Homo sapiens: one gene and its partners. The protein of the gene in region 1 binds, or shares a complex with, the protein of each later gene. Each region holds a gene or a part of one and is shown on either strand. Other genes may lie near its edges.

Evidence for each region. Proteins that work in one complex are often made in the same cells at the same time.
Region 2: RNF113A (region 1) and GPKOW share a complex: the UniProt entries of both Homo sapiens proteins name them as parts of the minor spliceosome.
Region 3: RNF113A (region 1) and CRIPT share a complex: the UniProt entries of both Homo sapiens proteins name them as parts of the minor spliceosome.

The regions. Positions count from the first base shown.
Region 1 is NC_000023.11:119,869,937-119,875,954, forward strand, and holds RNF113A (E3 ubiquitin-protein ligase RNF113A), read right to left. Parts: upstream 1,798-6,018; 5' UTR 1,678-1,797; coding exon 646-1,677; 3' UTR 539-645; downstream 1-538. Other genes in the region: NDUFA1 (NADH dehydrogenase [ubiquinone] 1 alpha subcomplex subunit 1), read left to right, coding at 1,976-2,077, 3,368-3,457. UniProt on the Homo sapiens protein: Required for pre-mRNA splicing as component of the spliceosome. As a component of the minor spliceosome, involved in the splicing of U12-type introns in pre-mRNAs. E3 ubiquitin-protein ligase that catalyzes the transfer of ubiquitin onto target proteins.
Region 2 is NC_000023.11:49,120,730-49,127,689, forward strand, and holds the start of GPKOW (G-patch domain and KOW motifs-containing protein), read right to left. Parts: upstream 3,007-6,960; 5' UTR 2,994-3,006; coding exon 2,818-2,993; intron 2,048-2,817; coding exon 1,893-2,047; intron 1,794-1,892; coding exon 1,669-1,793; intron 1-1,668. UniProt on the Homo sapiens protein: RNA-binding protein involved in pre-mRNA splicing. As a component of the minor spliceosome, involved in the splicing of U12-type introns in pre-mRNAs.
Region 3 is NC_000002.12:46,627,183-46,630,682, reverse strand, and holds the end of CRIPT (cysteine-rich PDZ-binding protein), read right to left. Parts: 3' UTR 507-3,500; downstream 1-506. UniProt on the Homo sapiens protein: As a component of the minor spliceosome, involved in the splicing of U12-type introns in pre-mRNAs. Involved in the cytoskeletal anchoring of DLG4 in excitatory synapses.

The DNA.
Region 1 (6,018 bases):
CGGGTGTGGTGGCATGCGCCTGTAGTCTCAGCTACGCGGGAGGCTGAGGCAGGGGAATCGCTTGAACCGGGGAGGCGGAGGTTGCAGTGAGCTGAGATCGCGCCACTGCACTCTAGCCTGGGCAAGAGAGCGAGACTCCGTCTCAAAAACAAATAAATAAATAAATAACCAAGACAGCAAGGAACATTTCCCATATGTGAAGCCTGTGGTGCTAGCTACCAGTTCCCCAAACACAACCCCTCTCCCCAACACCTTGGCTCGGGTATATTTTGTAGTACAGGCTCCCAAGAGAAAGAATGCATGAAAGTACTTTGTAAACTATTAAGTGATACAGAAATGTGATATAATAAACAGGCTCAGAGGTCTTGCTTTCATCATGGCTTTGGTTACTTCGAGCAAATTATAGCTCTTTTCTCAAACTACTCCCACCCCTATAATTTATGCCAAAGTGTTCTGAAAAGAAACACAGGCAAAATGGTTATCCTAGGGCTAAAAATCCTGATTATACCTACCTTGAAGCTTTTAATCCAGGACCCTACTTCACCACCCGCCTGCTCTGTCACTTTCTCTACAAAGGAAGGACACGAAGTAAGACTTCCAAAAGAACAAAACGTTTATTTTTTAAATTTAAGAATTATGGGAAACCTAAGTAATGGGAATTGCATCCTCATCGGGGTCTTCTGGCAAGTCGGAAGCACCACCCTCTCCTGTAGCTCGATGCTTCTCTAGTTTAGCAATCAATTCTTTCGCTGGATTGAAGACGCCATTGGTCTGCTGGTCACAGACATAGCAGCGCGGGGTGGTGCGGAAATGCTGCAGTGCACAGCTCTCGCAGAAATAATGCCTGCACTTGGTGACAACTGGGTTTTGGAAGCTCTGGCGACAGATGAAACACTTGAATGGTATTTCCTCATCATCGCTTCCCACTTCATAGTTTTCATCCTCATAGACACCATAGCGACCCTCATCAAGCTCACGTTCGATCTGCCACCCATGCTTGTAATCTGAACGGTCATGGAGGAATTTGCAGCTGTCTCCGAAGCCGCAGAAGCCAGTCTCTTTGTAGTCCTTACAGATGTCGGGCTGGTAATCCCAGCGCACGGTGGCACGTAGATGCTCGGGCGCTCGGATGGGGCCCTTCCTCACCATCCCGGAAGAGGCATTGCCCATAGACGTATCCTTGGGCTTCATGTATTTCTGATAATTGTTGATTCCCCGATAGATCTTGTCATCCTCCTTGCCCCTCAGCTCCTCCTGGATCTTCTGGCTGCGCTCAAAGATGGCTTGTGCATCGCGCTCTTTCTCTGTGTCCAGCTCATAGACAGCTGTCGCTCCCATATCCTCTGGTCCCACGGGTTTCGCCGAACGGGTGGATTTATAAACCACGCCGAGACTCTCGGGCTCATTTTCCTCTTCCTCTTCGCTGCTCAAGTCGCCGTAAGCCGCCTTCTGTTTACCACTGTCACGGGTCTTCTGTATCATTGGATTGTGGGTCACCCGCTTCTTTTCCGGTCGAACCACAGTGCAGCCTTCGTCGCTACTGCTGCCGCTTTCTCCGGGCTCTGGGTCGCAGGCCGGGCGCTTTCTGCGTCCAGCAGCCCCTTTCCGCCCAGGCTTTTTGAAAAGGAAGGTGCACACCTGATCCACCGCCTTTCCTGGAGAAAGCTGCTCTGCCATTTTAGAGTCCTGAGCTCCGAAACAGCCGTGGCTGCCTGGGTTGCACTTGGCCCCTGCACGTCACTCCACGTTGCGCGCTCCGCCGGGAGTCGAAGCAAAAGACACTGACGGAAGAGGACTGCGAGAGCCCGAGCGCCCGTCTCTCTTGTGCCCTAGCAGATTCCGTCGCTTCTTCCGGAGCCGTACGTGGCACCGCCCCGCTCGCGGGCGGCCGCGGGGCTTGCTGGGAAGAGAGGCGAAGCCAGGTCACCTTTCAAGGACCCAGAAGTAGGGTTTTGGCCTAGGTAACGGGGCAGAGATGTGGTTCGAGATTCTCCCCGGACTCTCCGTCATGGGCGTGTGCTTGTTGATTCCAGGACTGGCTACTGCGTACATCCACAGGTTCACTAACGGGGGCAAGGTAAGCCGGCTTCGGCCCGGGGGCCGACTCCACGGGCTGATTTCCGAAAAGGGTGGTGGGCAGGGAGACCGTCAGCCTGCGAACCCTCTCTCCGAGGTCGGCCCTCTACTTGCTTCCGGTTGCCTAGAAGCCGAGGCTTGCGAAACGAAGCCCGATAGAAACTACATCCTGCTCTAGTGAAAAACAGCGTTTCTGGGTGTATCAGAGTGGGCCTTAGGGCAGAGTAGCGACGCGGGGGCCGGGAAGGTAGATTAGAAAAGGTGGCTCAAGCCTGAGAATCGCTCACTGCAACCTCCGCCTTCTGGGTTCAAGAGATTCTCCTGGTTGGGCGCGGTGGATCACGCCTGTAATCCCAGCACTTTGGGAGACCGAGGCGAGCGGATCACCTGAGGTCGGGAGTTCGATACCAGCCTGACCAACATGGAGAAACCCCGTCTCTCCTAAAAATACAAAATTAGCTGGGCGTGGTGGCGCATGCCTGTAATCCCAGCTACTCGGGAGGCTGAGGCAGGAGAATCACTTGAACCCAGGAGGCGGAGGTTGCGATGAGCCGAGATCGCGCCACTGCACTCCAGCCTGGGCAACAAGAGCGAAACTCCGTCTCAAAAAAAAATAAATAAAGAAAGAAATTTTCCTGCTTCAGCCTCCCGAGTAGCCGGGACCACGCCTGGCTTTTTTTTTTTTTTTGTAGAGGCGGGGTTTCATCATGTTGGCGAGGCTGGTCTCGAACTTCTGACCTCGGTTGATCCACCCGCCTTGATCTCCCAAAGTGCTGGGATTACAGGCGTGAGCCGCCGCGACCGGCCACCCTTGACTTTTTTATTCCCCACTTTCTCTTGCAAGCCTTTAGGAATTTACTGCGAGATCTTGTTTTTTTACATCAGGATTCATTTTCCCCTCTTCCTAGTCCTTCACATCATCTCAAGAGTACAGGATATAAATTTATTTACTTTTTGATTTTGTTATTGTTCTTCACGTGTGATCTACAGCTGTTGTTTCTTAGTGTCCCAAAAGACAACAACTAGATATTTCTTTTTTTTTTTTTTTAAAAAAAAAGGAAAAAAAATTCATGTTGGTTAAAATAGTGTAAAAAGTCACAGGTACCAACTTAATCCTAAAGTTTAGTGGTCTGATTTTATTTAGGAGATTCTGTTCTTTGTACTACTAATTTGCATTTTTATTTAAACGATGATTCCATTTCTCTGGAATGTCCCTTTTAAAAATTGTAGTATCTATCAATTGGGTCACTCACTTTTATAAACTGCAACAATAATTGTCTCTTATTTGAAGGAAAAAAGGGTTGCTCATTTTGGGTATCACTGGAGTCTGATGGAAAGAGATAGGCGCATCTCTGGAGTTGATCGTTACTATGTGTCAAAGGTAAGATGCCACTCTGATGCCAGCCTTTTGCCAGGGTTGAGGTGGGTTCTGGTAATGCCTTGCCAAGGGTCATACAGTGCTAATATATAACTAGCATTTTCTTATCTACTAGTGAGGTTGGCATCTTTTTACATATTTAATCTTTTATATTTCTTTTTTTTTTTTAGTTTTTCTTCTGTCATATATTTCTTATTCTGTGGATTGTTGCCTATATCCTTTGCCTGTTCCATTGTCTTTTTCTTTTTGAGCTATGGTTCTTTATATATTCTAGACTTTAATTTTTTTGTCTATTTTATATATGACATTTTTCCCAGTCTGCTGTTTGTCTTTTTTACTTTATGATGTTTTTCATCAGGTAGTTCTAAATTTTGATATTCAATGTATCATGTTTTGTTGTTCTGGATTCTAGGTTTTTATGTCTCCCGTACAAAGGCCTTTTCTATCTAAGATTATAAAAATACTTTCAAAAAATAAAATAGAGACAGTCTTGCTGTGTTGCCCAGGCTGGCCCTCAAACTCATAGGCTCAAGTGATCTTCTTGCCTCAGCCTTCGGAGGAGCTGGGACTGCAGGTGTGCCACTATACCTGGCTCATAAAAATACTTTTAAAAAATAATTTCTCCTAATATTGTTAGTTTCTTTAAAAAATTAGTTATTTGGTTACATCTACAGGTCATTTTGGAGTATAATGTGAAAGGAGGATTAACTTTACTTTTTTCCAACAGGTAGCTAGTTATCGCAATTACCCATTTATAGAAGAGTTTAGTAGTCCTAGCTACTCAGAAGGCTGAGGCAGGAGGACAGCTTGAGCCCAGGGGTTTGAGGCTCCAGTGAACTAGGATCGTACCACTGCACTCCAGCCCGGGCGAGAGAATGAGAGCCTGTCTCAAAAAAAAAAAAAAAAAAAACCACCAAGCACCCAATTTATTTTTATTTGTAATACCACTCTGGTAAACTAAATTTCCATGTACACATGGGCCTGTTTCACGGATGTGCTTTTCTATACTCTAGGTCTGCCTATTCCTGCAACAATACTTCATTTAAAGAATTACTATAATTTTATATTTTGATTCAATTATGACATTGCCATTTTTGTAGGTCAAAAACGACCAAGCAGTAGCATTTCATAAGGCTCAACTTAATAGTATATTTTTTGTTTTTCTGTCTTTTTTTTTGTTTTTTGAGACAAGGTCTCACGCTGTCACTCAGTCTGGAGTGCAGTGGTGCAATCTTGGCTCACTGCAACCCCCGCCTCCCGGGTTCAAGCGATTCTTGTGCCTCAGCCTCCTGAGTAGCTGGGATTACAGGCACCTGCCACCATGCCCAGCTAAATTTTTTTTTGTACTTTTTGGTAGAGATGGAGTTTCACCATGTTGGCCAGGCTGGTTTCCTAACTCCTGACCTCAAGTGATCCGCCCACCTCAACCTCCCAAAGTGTTAGGATTACAGGCGTGAGCCCCTACTCCTGGCCCTAATAGTATGTTTTTATATTTTGTAGGAGTAGTTCATTCTCATACTTCTTTTAAAAATGTTTACTTTTTAATATTTTCTCCTTCCTCATTTATTCCTCACAACAAACCTAAGTAAATAGTATTTCCATTTTATAGACAAGGGTCAGAGTGATTAAGTAATATTATAAGGACTCAACCTGGGTGATACACCTCTCAGTAGAGAGGTAGTTGAGAATCTAATCCAATGAACATGATAATAGATATCTACTTATCTGGAGCCATATTTCTCAAAGTATGGTCCAAGAATAACCATCAGAATCACCTAGCATGTGAGACAGAATTAGGATTTCTAAGAGATGGCTCCAAGGAAGATACAGTTTTAACTTCTCTTAAGGCAGTTCTTCCTGTAATAGTAAACCAAATACCTGGACTATGTTATTTAATACCTAGAAGAAGTGTCATCACTGATGAGTCTTTTTTTTTTTTTTTTTTTTTTTTTGAGACGGAGTCTTGCTCTGTCGCCTAGGCCGGAGTGCAGTGGAATGATCTTGGCTCACTGCAAGCTCCACCCACCAGGTTCAAGCAATTCTCCTGCCTCAGCCTCACGAGTAGCTGGGATTACAGGTGCGCTGTAATTTTTGTACTTTTAGTAGAGACAGGGTTTCACCATCTTGGCCAGGCTGATCTTGAACTCCTGACCTCATGATCCACCCACCTCGGCCTCCCAAAGTGCTGGGATTACAGGCGTGAGCCACCACGCCAGGTGTAATCTTTTAATTTATAGCTTCTGAAGTATTTGGTTGTCAACTTAGTAAGATCCAGTAGGTATTTTGAATAGATAGTGTAGTGCTTGTCAGAGAAGGGTTCGGGAGTTGGGGTCCCTGAATTCTGGCTCTGCTAATTCCTTATGGACTTAAGCAGGTGACTTTTAACCTCTCTGAGCCTCCATTTCCTCATTTGTAAAAAAAATGGAATGAGAATAATAGTATCTACCTCATGTTGGCTGTTATTTTTTAAAACAGATTTTACCTTCTTGTCCTCTGACTCACTGAGGTGCTTTGTAAAAGGATCCAGGTGGAGGCCAGGCATAGTGGCTCACACCTGTAATCCT
Region 2 (6,960 bases), about 71 Mb from region 1:
CTCAGCTCACTGCAACCTCAGTCTCCTGGGTTCAAGCGATTCTCCTGCCTCAGCCTCCCGAGTAGCTGTGATTACAGGCACGTGCCACCATGCCCAGCTAATTTTTGTATTTTTACTAGTGATGGGGTTTCGCCATGTTGGCCAGGCTGGTCTTGAACTCCTGACCTCAGGTGATCCGCTGGCCTCAGCCTCTCAAAGTGTTGGGATTACAGGCGTGAGCCACCGCCCCTGGCTGACTCCAAGGTTTTTATGCTGAGTGAGAGGAAGGATGGATGGAATTTTTGGTCACCTGATATGTAGAAAGCTGCAGGAGGAGGTTTATAGAGGGAAAAATTAGAAGAATGAGGCCAAAGCTGGAACAGGATGAAAGGATGAAGAGGGAAGTGAGGATCTTTTTTTTCTTTAAAGATGAAGGAGCTGGGCACAGTGGCTCACGCCGGTAATCCCAGCACTTTGGGAGGCTGAGGTGGGTAGATCACTTGAGGTCAGGAGTTCAAGGCCAGCCTGACCAACGTGGCGAAACCTCGTCTCTACTAAAAATACAAAAATTAGCCAGGCGGTAGTGACACGTGTCTGTAATCCCAGCTACTTGGGAGGCTGAGGCAGGAGAATCGCTTGATCCCAGGACCGGGAGGTTGCAGTGAGCCGAGATCACACCACTTCACTCCAGCCTGGGCGACAGGGCAAGACTCTATCTCAAAAAACAAAAAACAAACAAACAAAAAAATGTTGAAGGAAACCAGGGCACATCTGAAGGCTGAAGAGAACAGTTCAGTTGAAAGAGAGAGTGGTGTGGGGCTGTAGAAGAACTAGACTCAAAAGAAGCAGTGCAAGAAATTTATGAAAGAAGAGGTGAAAAGTCAGGTCTGTGGGTATGAAAGACAGACTTGGTTACTTCTGTAGACATGCCTCTCACGTCCCCTCTTGTCACCTCCCATCATCACTCCTTCCCATTCACTCCAGATACACCACATGTTGCCTCACTGATGGACACACCATATCGATTTTCTACCACTATGCCATTGCTTGGGCTGTTACTACTAACAGGAGTACTCACTCTGTTCTTCCCTCTCTCACTAAACCCTACTTATCCTTCCAGACCACTCTGGTCTAAGTCCCCAGCATCTCTAGCCTGGACTACTCATCCCCTTGCTTCCACCTTCACTAATGAGTCTGTTCACAGCTTCCAGAGGGATACTGTCAAATCATAAATCATATTTCATCTATGCTCAGGGCTTGTCCAGGCTCTCATCTCACTCAGAGTAAAAGCCAAAGTCCTCACAATGGCCTACAAGGCCCTGCCTGGTCTAGCACCCCCATCTCCTTTCTGACTTCGTCTACTACCCCTTCCCCTTACTCATTCCACTTCAGTCACACTGGTCTCCTTGGTGTTCCGCAAACACTTTAGGCAGTGTCTACCTTCAGGGCCTTTACATTTCCTGTTCCCTTTGCTGCACACCTCATTCAGATAATCCTAGGATTCAAGTACGTTTTTAGCATCCAGATACCCAGATTCATTTGGTAATGCTTCCAAAATGATGACAGGAGAAGGGGCAGGTGGCGGGCCTCTAGCACACACACAGACTTTCCCTGCTACGTGCAGGGACACAGCCTGGCGGACAGGGCAAAGAAAGGCTGGGGCAGGAGGGGGACAAGGGGCCAGCTCACTGTCTCTGCCCGGGGTTCGCTGTCTGCCCCTTCCCCGCTGGGGGTGCATCCTTTCTGGATCATGGGGATAGCGAGCGTGGGGTCGACACCCGCATTCTCTCTCTCTTCCAGAGACTTCTTGGATTCTAAAGGAAGAATAGGAGGGAGCAATGAAGTCCCACTCTATCCTTCCACCTTCTTCCTCTTCTTCCTTCAATGGGGAAGGGTAAAGGGGTATCACTCACCCGCAATGAGCTCCTTCACAGCCTGGGACACCACCCCATCCGCCAAGGCCCCAGTATCTGTGGATGGCCCAGGGGGCCGGGCTGGTGGCTGCCTGCGATGGCCATTCTGGATCAAAGGGATGACGAGTTCCTTGGGGGCCTCCTGGGGCTTCACACTGATGTGGACACAGAGGGGTGGGGTTGGGAGAATGGCAGGGTCAGTGGGTCACACTCCTTCATTCAGAGAAAACACAAGAGCCAAACTCACCCCAGCCCCACAGACCATGTCTTCCCTACTCCATGTCTGGATCTCCTGTTCCTCTCTGATCGTGCATTCTCTGGATTATCTCCCCAGTGCCCCCAACTCATAAATGTCAGTGCCTTCGAGAAATAAGTCCTGCACTCTCTGTTTAACTCAATACCGGCTTCTACAATGGCCCACAAATCACTATCTTCAGCCCAGACCTTCCCCAGCTCCAGGTTCCCAAACAGCTTCCTAGATGCCTGATTCTCTTCTGGAAATCCCTCCCTCAGACCCCTCAGACACTCCTCTCCTCATTAAGCTGATGGTGGCCTCCATCAACCTGAATCTGCCGCTCCATCCCGTTCCCCATATCGGGGACGCCTCAGCCCTTCAGTTGAGACACTAGCAGGTCCTGTCATTTTCTCATTCTTTCCTTCTCCCAGAACGCACAGACCTTAGTGTCTTCAAGTCCTAAAGACACTTCTTCTCAGTAATACATCCTCTCTTCGCAATTCCCACAGCTATCAGGCCCAATTTCCTCACCCCCTCCTATAAACTCCCGCCTTCTGGCCTCCACGAATTTACTCAGGCTGTGCTTCAGGCTTAACAGGTCACTGTCACCAAGACAAACAACTGAGATTCCTCCCTCCCGCTTACGCCCACCGCAGAGATTTCCAAGGGGTGAAAGACCCGGCGCGTCACCTCTGCAGCTCCCTCCCTTCCACGGTTTTCAAGAAATCCTTCTCCTCCGGAGATGGCCCCGCGCCGTCTCCCGAGTCGGCCAGCCGCCTCCGTGCGGACGTGCGAGTGAAGCCGAATGAAATTGGGGCAGTGGAAGCAGCCGTCAGCGGCAAAACACCCTCTTTGGAGTCAGCCATCTTGCTCCTTTTCCCAGGCCGGCGCGCTGCTTGCTGGGAAATTTAGTTTGGGTTCAGATCGCTAGGGGCCGGCCAAAGTGCGTAAAAACTACCTTCCCATCAACCACTGTGGCACCGGCGGGAGGGGGCGGTAAGGGGCCGTGGGAAGTAATTGTCGCTCTTTCAAACGTGGTGGGAGCGCGTCGCGCCAAGCGCCCAGGGAAATGTAGTTTTTTTTTTGTTTGTTTTGTTTTGTTTTTTAAGATGGAGTCTCGCTCTGTTTCACAGGCTGGAGTGCAGTGGCGTGATCTCGGCTCACTGCAACCTCCGCCTCCCAGGTTCAAGCGATTCTCCTGCCTCAGCCTCCCGAGTAGCTGAGACTAAAGGCATGCGCCACCACGCCTGGCTAATTTTTGTATTTTTAGTAGAGACGGGGTTTCACCGTGTTAGCCAGGATGGTCTCGATTTCCTGACCTCGTGATTCTCCTGCCTCGGCCTCCCACAGTGCTGGGATTACAGGTGTGAGCCACCACGCCTGGCTGGAAATGTAGTTTTTAGCGGGGTAGGCATGGTGGAAGGTGGATTCATTCTTGCCAGACATTAATCTTCCTTCGTGTAGGCGTTTGACAAGTATTTATGGAGCGCCTAATGTGTGCCCTACTTATGTGGGAAGTGTTGATGAAGTAAATCATTTAGAAATAATCAGCTGGGTGTGGTGGCGCGCACCTGTAGTTCCATTTACTCCGCAGGCTGAGGCAGGAGGATGGCCTGAGGCCTGGGAATTCGAGGCTGCACTTAGCTCTTATCGCACCACTGCATTCCAGCCTGGGTGACAGAGCGAGACCCCATCTCTAAAAAAGAAAAAGGTCGGGGGTGGGGGGGATGGAGCGTCAGTTGTGTACAATAATAAATAATAGACATAAAATAAATAATAGACATAAAAAACCCCGTCTCTACTGAAAATACAAAAATTAGAGGGGTGTGGTGGCTCATGCCTGTAATCCCAGCATTTTGGGAGGCCGAGGCTGGTGGATCACCTGAGGTCAGGACTTTGAGACCAGCCTGACTCATATGGTGAAACCCTGTCTCTACTAAAAATACAAAAATTAGCCGGGCGTGGTGGTGGCGCCTGTATCCCCAGCTACTTGGGAGGCTGAGACAGGAGGATTGCTTGAATCCGGGAGACAGAGTTTGCAGTGAGCCGAGATCCTGCCACTGCACTCCAGCCTGGGCGACAGAGCGAGACTCCGTCTTAAAAAAGAAAAAAGAAAGAAAGAAAGAAATAGTGCCTATTGGCCAGGCTCATACCCGTAATCCCAGCACTTTAGGAGGCCGAGGCGGGCGGATCACTTGAGGCCAGTAGTTCGAGACCAGCCTGGCCAACATGGTGAAACCCCGTCTCTACTGAAAATACAAAAATTAGCGGGGTGTGGTGGCGCATGCCTGTAATCCCAGCTACTCGGGAGGTTGAGGCAGGAGAATCGCTTGAACCCGGGAGGCGGAGGTTACAGTGAGCCGAGATCTCAACACTCCGGCCTGGGCTATAGAGTGACACTCAGTCTCAAAAACAAAAGAAAAACAAAAGAAAAACAAAAAAAAAAAAAAAAAAAAAAGAAAAAGAATAGTGCCTACTGATGTCAGATTTTAATACTCAACAAGGCACTAGATTCAAATATCAATAAAATAGGCTGGGCACAGTGGCTCATGCCTGTAATCCCAGCACTTTGGGAGACCTAGGCGGGCGGACCACCTGAGGTCAAGAGTTTGAGACCAGCCTGGCCAACATGGCAAAACCCAATCTCCACTAAAAATACAAAAATTAGCCGGGTGTGGTGGCACATGCTTGTAATCCCAGCTACTCGGGAGGTGGAGGCAGGAGAATCGCTTGAACCTAGTAGGTGGAAGTTGCAGTGAGCCAAGATTGCCCCACTGCACTCCAGCCTGGGCAACAGAGCGAGACTCTGTCTCAAAAAAAAAAAAAAAGAAAAAGAAAAGAAAAAGAAAAAAAAGAAACTTGTAGTCTAGTAGGGAATACAGACATTTAAATACATATTTTAAAAATATAGCAACATGTGCCGAGCTTAGTGGCTCACGCCTATAATCCCAGCACTTTGGGAGGCCTAGGCAGGAGGATTGTTTGAGCTCAGGACTTTGAGACCACCCTGGGCAACCTAGTGACACCCTGACTCTACAAAAAAATTTAAAAATTAATGGGGTGTGGTGGCGCACATCTGTGGACCCAGCTACTCAGAGGGCTGAGGGGGGAGGATCACTTCAGCCCAGGAGGTTGAGGATGCACTGAGCGGTGATCAGGCCACAGCACTACAGCCTGGGCAACACACACACATATACATATAGCAACATTAAACATATTGTGAGAACCAGGTCCTAAGGCTTCAAAGATTACTGATATGAAGGAAAAATGAAGCAGTCAGAAAATTAAAAAAAAAAAAGATTATTGAGACAGATCTCTCTTGTGTAGGACCTCAAGAGTTCATACAGGCAGGGTGCGGTGGTTCATGCCTGTAATCCCAGCACTCTGAGAAGCCGAGGCAGGTGGATCACTTGAGGCCAGGAGTTCAAGACCAACCTGGCAAACATGGCAAAACTCTGTCTCTACTAAACATACAAAAATTGGCCGGGCATGGTGGCAGGCGCCTGTGGTTCCAGCTACTCAGGAGGCTGAGGCATGAGAATCGCTTGAACCCGGGAGGTGGAGGTTGCAGTGAGCCGAGATCACGTCATTGCACTCCAGCTTGGGCGACAGAGTGAAACTCTGCCTTAGAAAATGAAAAAAAATTTAAAATGAAAAAAAAAAAGAGTTTATACAGAGTGGCTTATACAGAGTTGCTGGGTGTGGTGGCTCACACCTGTACTTTCAGCACTATGGGAGGCTGAGGCAGGAGGATTACTTGAGGCCAGGAGTTGGTGGATACAGTGAGCTATGATCGTGGCACTGCACTATAGCTTGTGTGACAGAGCAAGATCCTGCCTCTAAAAAAGTAAATAAGTAAAATAAAAATAAAATAGTTTGTACAGTAGATGACAGATACTTAAATATTCTTAAGAAAGAGTAATATAATTCTGCTACAAATTAGGCTCAAGGATATCATTGAAGATGTGTAAAATAATTTTTTATGAGATTCATTATCATATTATTGTGGCAAAAGCTTGAAGACCACTTAAATTATCAACAGAAGGGGATGCAGTAAATGAATTACAGCACACACCTTGGATGAAAGAAATACGCCTTTACATTGGAAGTTGTAAATAAATATATATATATAAAATATATATATATATACATATATATTTTTTTTGAGACAGGGTCTCACTCTGTTGCCCAGGCTGGAGTGTAGTGGTGTGATTTCGGCTCACTGCAACCTCCACCTCCCAGGTTCAAGCGATTCTCGTGCCTCAGCCTCCTGAGTAGCTGGGATTAGAGGTGCCTGACACAACGCTGGGCTAATTTTTCTATTTTCAGTAGAGGTGGGATTTTGCCATGTTGGCCAGGTTAGTCTCAAACTCCTCACCTCAGGTAATCCGACTGCCTTGGCCTCCCAAAGTGCTGAGATTACAGGCGTGAGTCACTGCATGACCAGCTGCTATAAATATAATTAAATGGACTGGGCACGGTGGCTCATGCCTATAATCCCAGCGCTTTGGGAGGCTGAGGCAGGCAGATCCTCTGAGGTCGGGAGTTCGAGACCAGCCTGGCCAACATGGTGAAACCCCATCTGTACTAAAAATAAAAAATTAGCCATGTGTGGTAGTGGTTACCGATAATCCCAGTTACTCGGGAGGCTGAGGCAGGAGCATCGCTTGAACCCAGGAGGCAGGGGTTGTGGTGAGCTGAGATTGTGCCACTGGACTCCAGCCTGGGTGACAGAGCTAAACTCCCTCTCAAATAAATAAATAAATAAATAAATAAAAGAAAAGAAAAGAAAAAAATATAAAATTGAATGAAATGGGGACATACCATATTTTG
Region 3 (3,500 bases), on another chromosome or scaffold:
GCACTGAAAAGAACAATGCCATTTCTGTGGTATCCCCGCCAAAAATGTATAAGCTCAGTCTAATCATCAAGAAATACCAGAAAAACCCAGATTAAGAGTTACTCTATAAAAAGTCTACGGGTTGGGAACAATAGACACTGAGGACTACTAGAGGAGGGAGGGAGGGAAGGTGCAAGGGTTGGAAAACTACCTATTGGGTACTATGCTCACTACCTGGGTGTCGGGATCAATGGTGCCCCAAACCTCAGCATCACGCAATATACCCATGTAACAAACTTGCACATATACTCCCTGAGTCTAAAATAAAAGTTGAAATTAAAAAAAAAAATACAACTGGCCCATAACCTTGGCATTTTGAAAGACTGGCTGAAGAACTGCTCCAGAATAAATGAGACTACAGACATGACAACTAAATGTAATGTTACTCCAGAGTGGATCCAGATCAGACTTTTTTTTTTTTTTGCATATTACTGAAACAATTAGCAAAATATGAAAAAGATTTGATAATAGTAAAGTATTAATGTTAATTTTCTGATTTTGGTAATTGTGCTATGGCTATGCAGGAAAACACCCTTGTTCTTTGGAAATACAAACTTAAGTAATTGGGGTAAAGAGGCACCACATCTAGTAAGGAATATTCAAATGGCTCAGAAAAAAGTACTTACTCGAAGTTGATGATAAAGGGAAACCTCTTCCTTACAGTAGAATGATGACTAATTAATACAGAAATAATAATAGAGTTAGAACAATCACAATTTTGGAAACATCCTAGTAAAAATTTATTCAGACAAGAATCGTCAAAGGATGCTAAACCTAGGAGGGGTAGATTTGATGAGGAACAGAATTGTCAACAAGGTCTCAAAGTTTCTCCTCACAAATTACCCACTAATTGCAAAAGGAAAAACAATAACGATACACTGGAGAAACTGGACATCTTACCCAAGTGATCAAAATTAGCATCACCAATAAGGGACAAATGGACATTCTGTGCATCTGGATGTATACCTGCAATACATATCACTTACAGCATTTCAACCCTCACTGCACTACCCCAATCTAACCATGAGGAAACATCAGAAAAACCCAAATAGAAGGATACTCTATCCTTTAGCTGTCCTGTATTTTTCAAATATATTACTATTATAAAAAACAAAGAAAAGCTGAGGAACTGCTCCAGATTAGAGGGTTATGGCAATACAACATATGATCCTAGGCTGGATCGTGGAGCTGAAAAAAATTACCAATAAAACAGCAAATGAAATTGAAATATGGACTGTAAAGTATTATGGCAATGTTAAATTTCTGAACTTGATAGCTGTACTTGGGTAAGACAGCATGCTTGTTCTTATGAAGTGCATGTGTAGTGTTAAAGGGTAAAGAGTATGATGTCTACAATATACTTTCTAATGGGTCGAGGATTCTAGGATACACACCCCCAGTTAAGGGAACTGGGAGTTAAAAGGTATTCGAAGGCTGCCATAAGGATGTAAAGAGTTAAGTCTCTACCCTTACACCCACTCCAGAGAAAAACAGTACTATTAGCTTCCTGTGTTTTCCACATGGATACAAAAACTTTTGCACACATATGTAATTCTTCTATCATTCTGACAGCTATATATTCTAATGGATGAATATATAAAATGTACTTAAGTGTTCTATTGGCATTTGTTTCTAGTATCTTTTATATTACAATCTGATATCTTAACAGATTCTTTCATCACTTTTACATTTATTTTGATAAAAGTTAGGTTTGGCTTTAATTCCTTGTTTTTAAACTTTTTTTCTGCATTTTTCAACTCTGGCTGTGGCATAAGGCCTTAATTCTGTCATCTTATTTGGTTATAGTGTCTGTTTGTATGTCTTCCTTTTAAAAATATTTTATGTTCATGTTTTGTTTTAGGGTTTTCCTCCTCATCTAGTAAATACTTCTATTCAATTTATGACCATCATTATTATTATTTAGAGAATATGGAGATGGTTCTGAGGTACAATACAACAAAAATCTTCATAGGAGAACCTAAGTGCGGCCACTGGATGATCCATTCATGGAAGGAGGCTACTCAAAGTATGAAGATAAAATGTGAGCTGGACAAGAACTACAAAACACGCTGAAAGAAATCAGAGATGACACAAACAAATGGAAAAACATTCCAAGCTCATGAGCTAGAAGAATCAATATCATTAAAATGGCCATACTGCCCAAAGCAATCCACAGATTCAATGCTATTCCTATCAAACTACAAACATCATTTTTCACAGAATTAGAAAAATCCTGCCGGGTCCAGTGGCTCACGCCTGTAATCCCAGCACTTTGGGAGGCTGAGGCGGGTGGATCACAACGTCAGGAGTTCAAGACCAGCCTGGCTAAGATGATGAAACCCCATCTCTACTAAAATTACATAAATTAGCTGGGCATGGTTGGCGGGCTCCTGTAATCCCAGCTATTTGGGAGGCTGAGGCAGGAGAATTGCTTGAACTCAGGAGGCAGAGGTTGCAGTGAGCTGAGATTGCACAGCTGCACTCAGAGCCTGGGAGACACAGCAAGACTCCGTCTCAAAAAAAAAAAAAAAGAAAAAATCCATTCTAAAATTCATATGGAACCAAAAAATCAATCCTAAGCAAATAAAACAAAGCTGAGGTATCACATTACCTGAGTTAAACTATACTATAAGGAAGCTACAGTAACCAAAACAGCATGGTACAGATATAAAAACAGACCCATAGACCAATGGAATGGAACAGACAGAAATAAAGCTACACACCTACAGCCATCTGACCTTTGACAAAGTTAACAAAAATAAGCAACAGAGAAAGGATTCCCTAATTCAATAAATGGTGCTGGAACAGCTGTCTAGCCATATGCAGAAGACTCAAACTGGACCCCTTTCACCATATATATAAAATTACCTCAAGATAGATTAAAGATTTAAATATAAGGGGCCGGGTGCAGTGGCTCATGCCTGTAATCCCAGCACTTTGGGAGACTGAGGTGGGTGGATCACTTGAGGCTCGGAATTCAAGACCAGCCTGGCCAACATGGTAAAACCCCATTCCTACTAAAAATAGAAAAATTAGCCAGGCGTGGTGGCATGTGCCTGTAATCCCAGTTAGGTTGGGAGGCTGAGGCATGAGAATCGCTTGAGCCTGGGAGGTGGAGGTTGTGGTGAGCCAAGATTGTACCACTGTACTCCAGCCTGGGCAACAGAAGGAGACTCTGTCTTTGGGGAAAAAAAAAAAAAAAGATTTAAATGTAAGACTTCAAGCTATAAGAGTCCTAGAAGAAAACCTACGAAATAACATCTGGACATCAGCTATGGGAAAGAACTTACGGCTAAGTCCTCAAAAGCAATTGCAACAAAAACAAAAATTGACAAGTGGAACCTAATCAAACTAAAGAGCTTCTGCACCGCAAAAGGAACTATCAATACAGTAAACAGACAACCTACAGAATGGGAGAGAATATTCACAAACTGTGCATCTGAAAAAGGTCTAATGTCCAA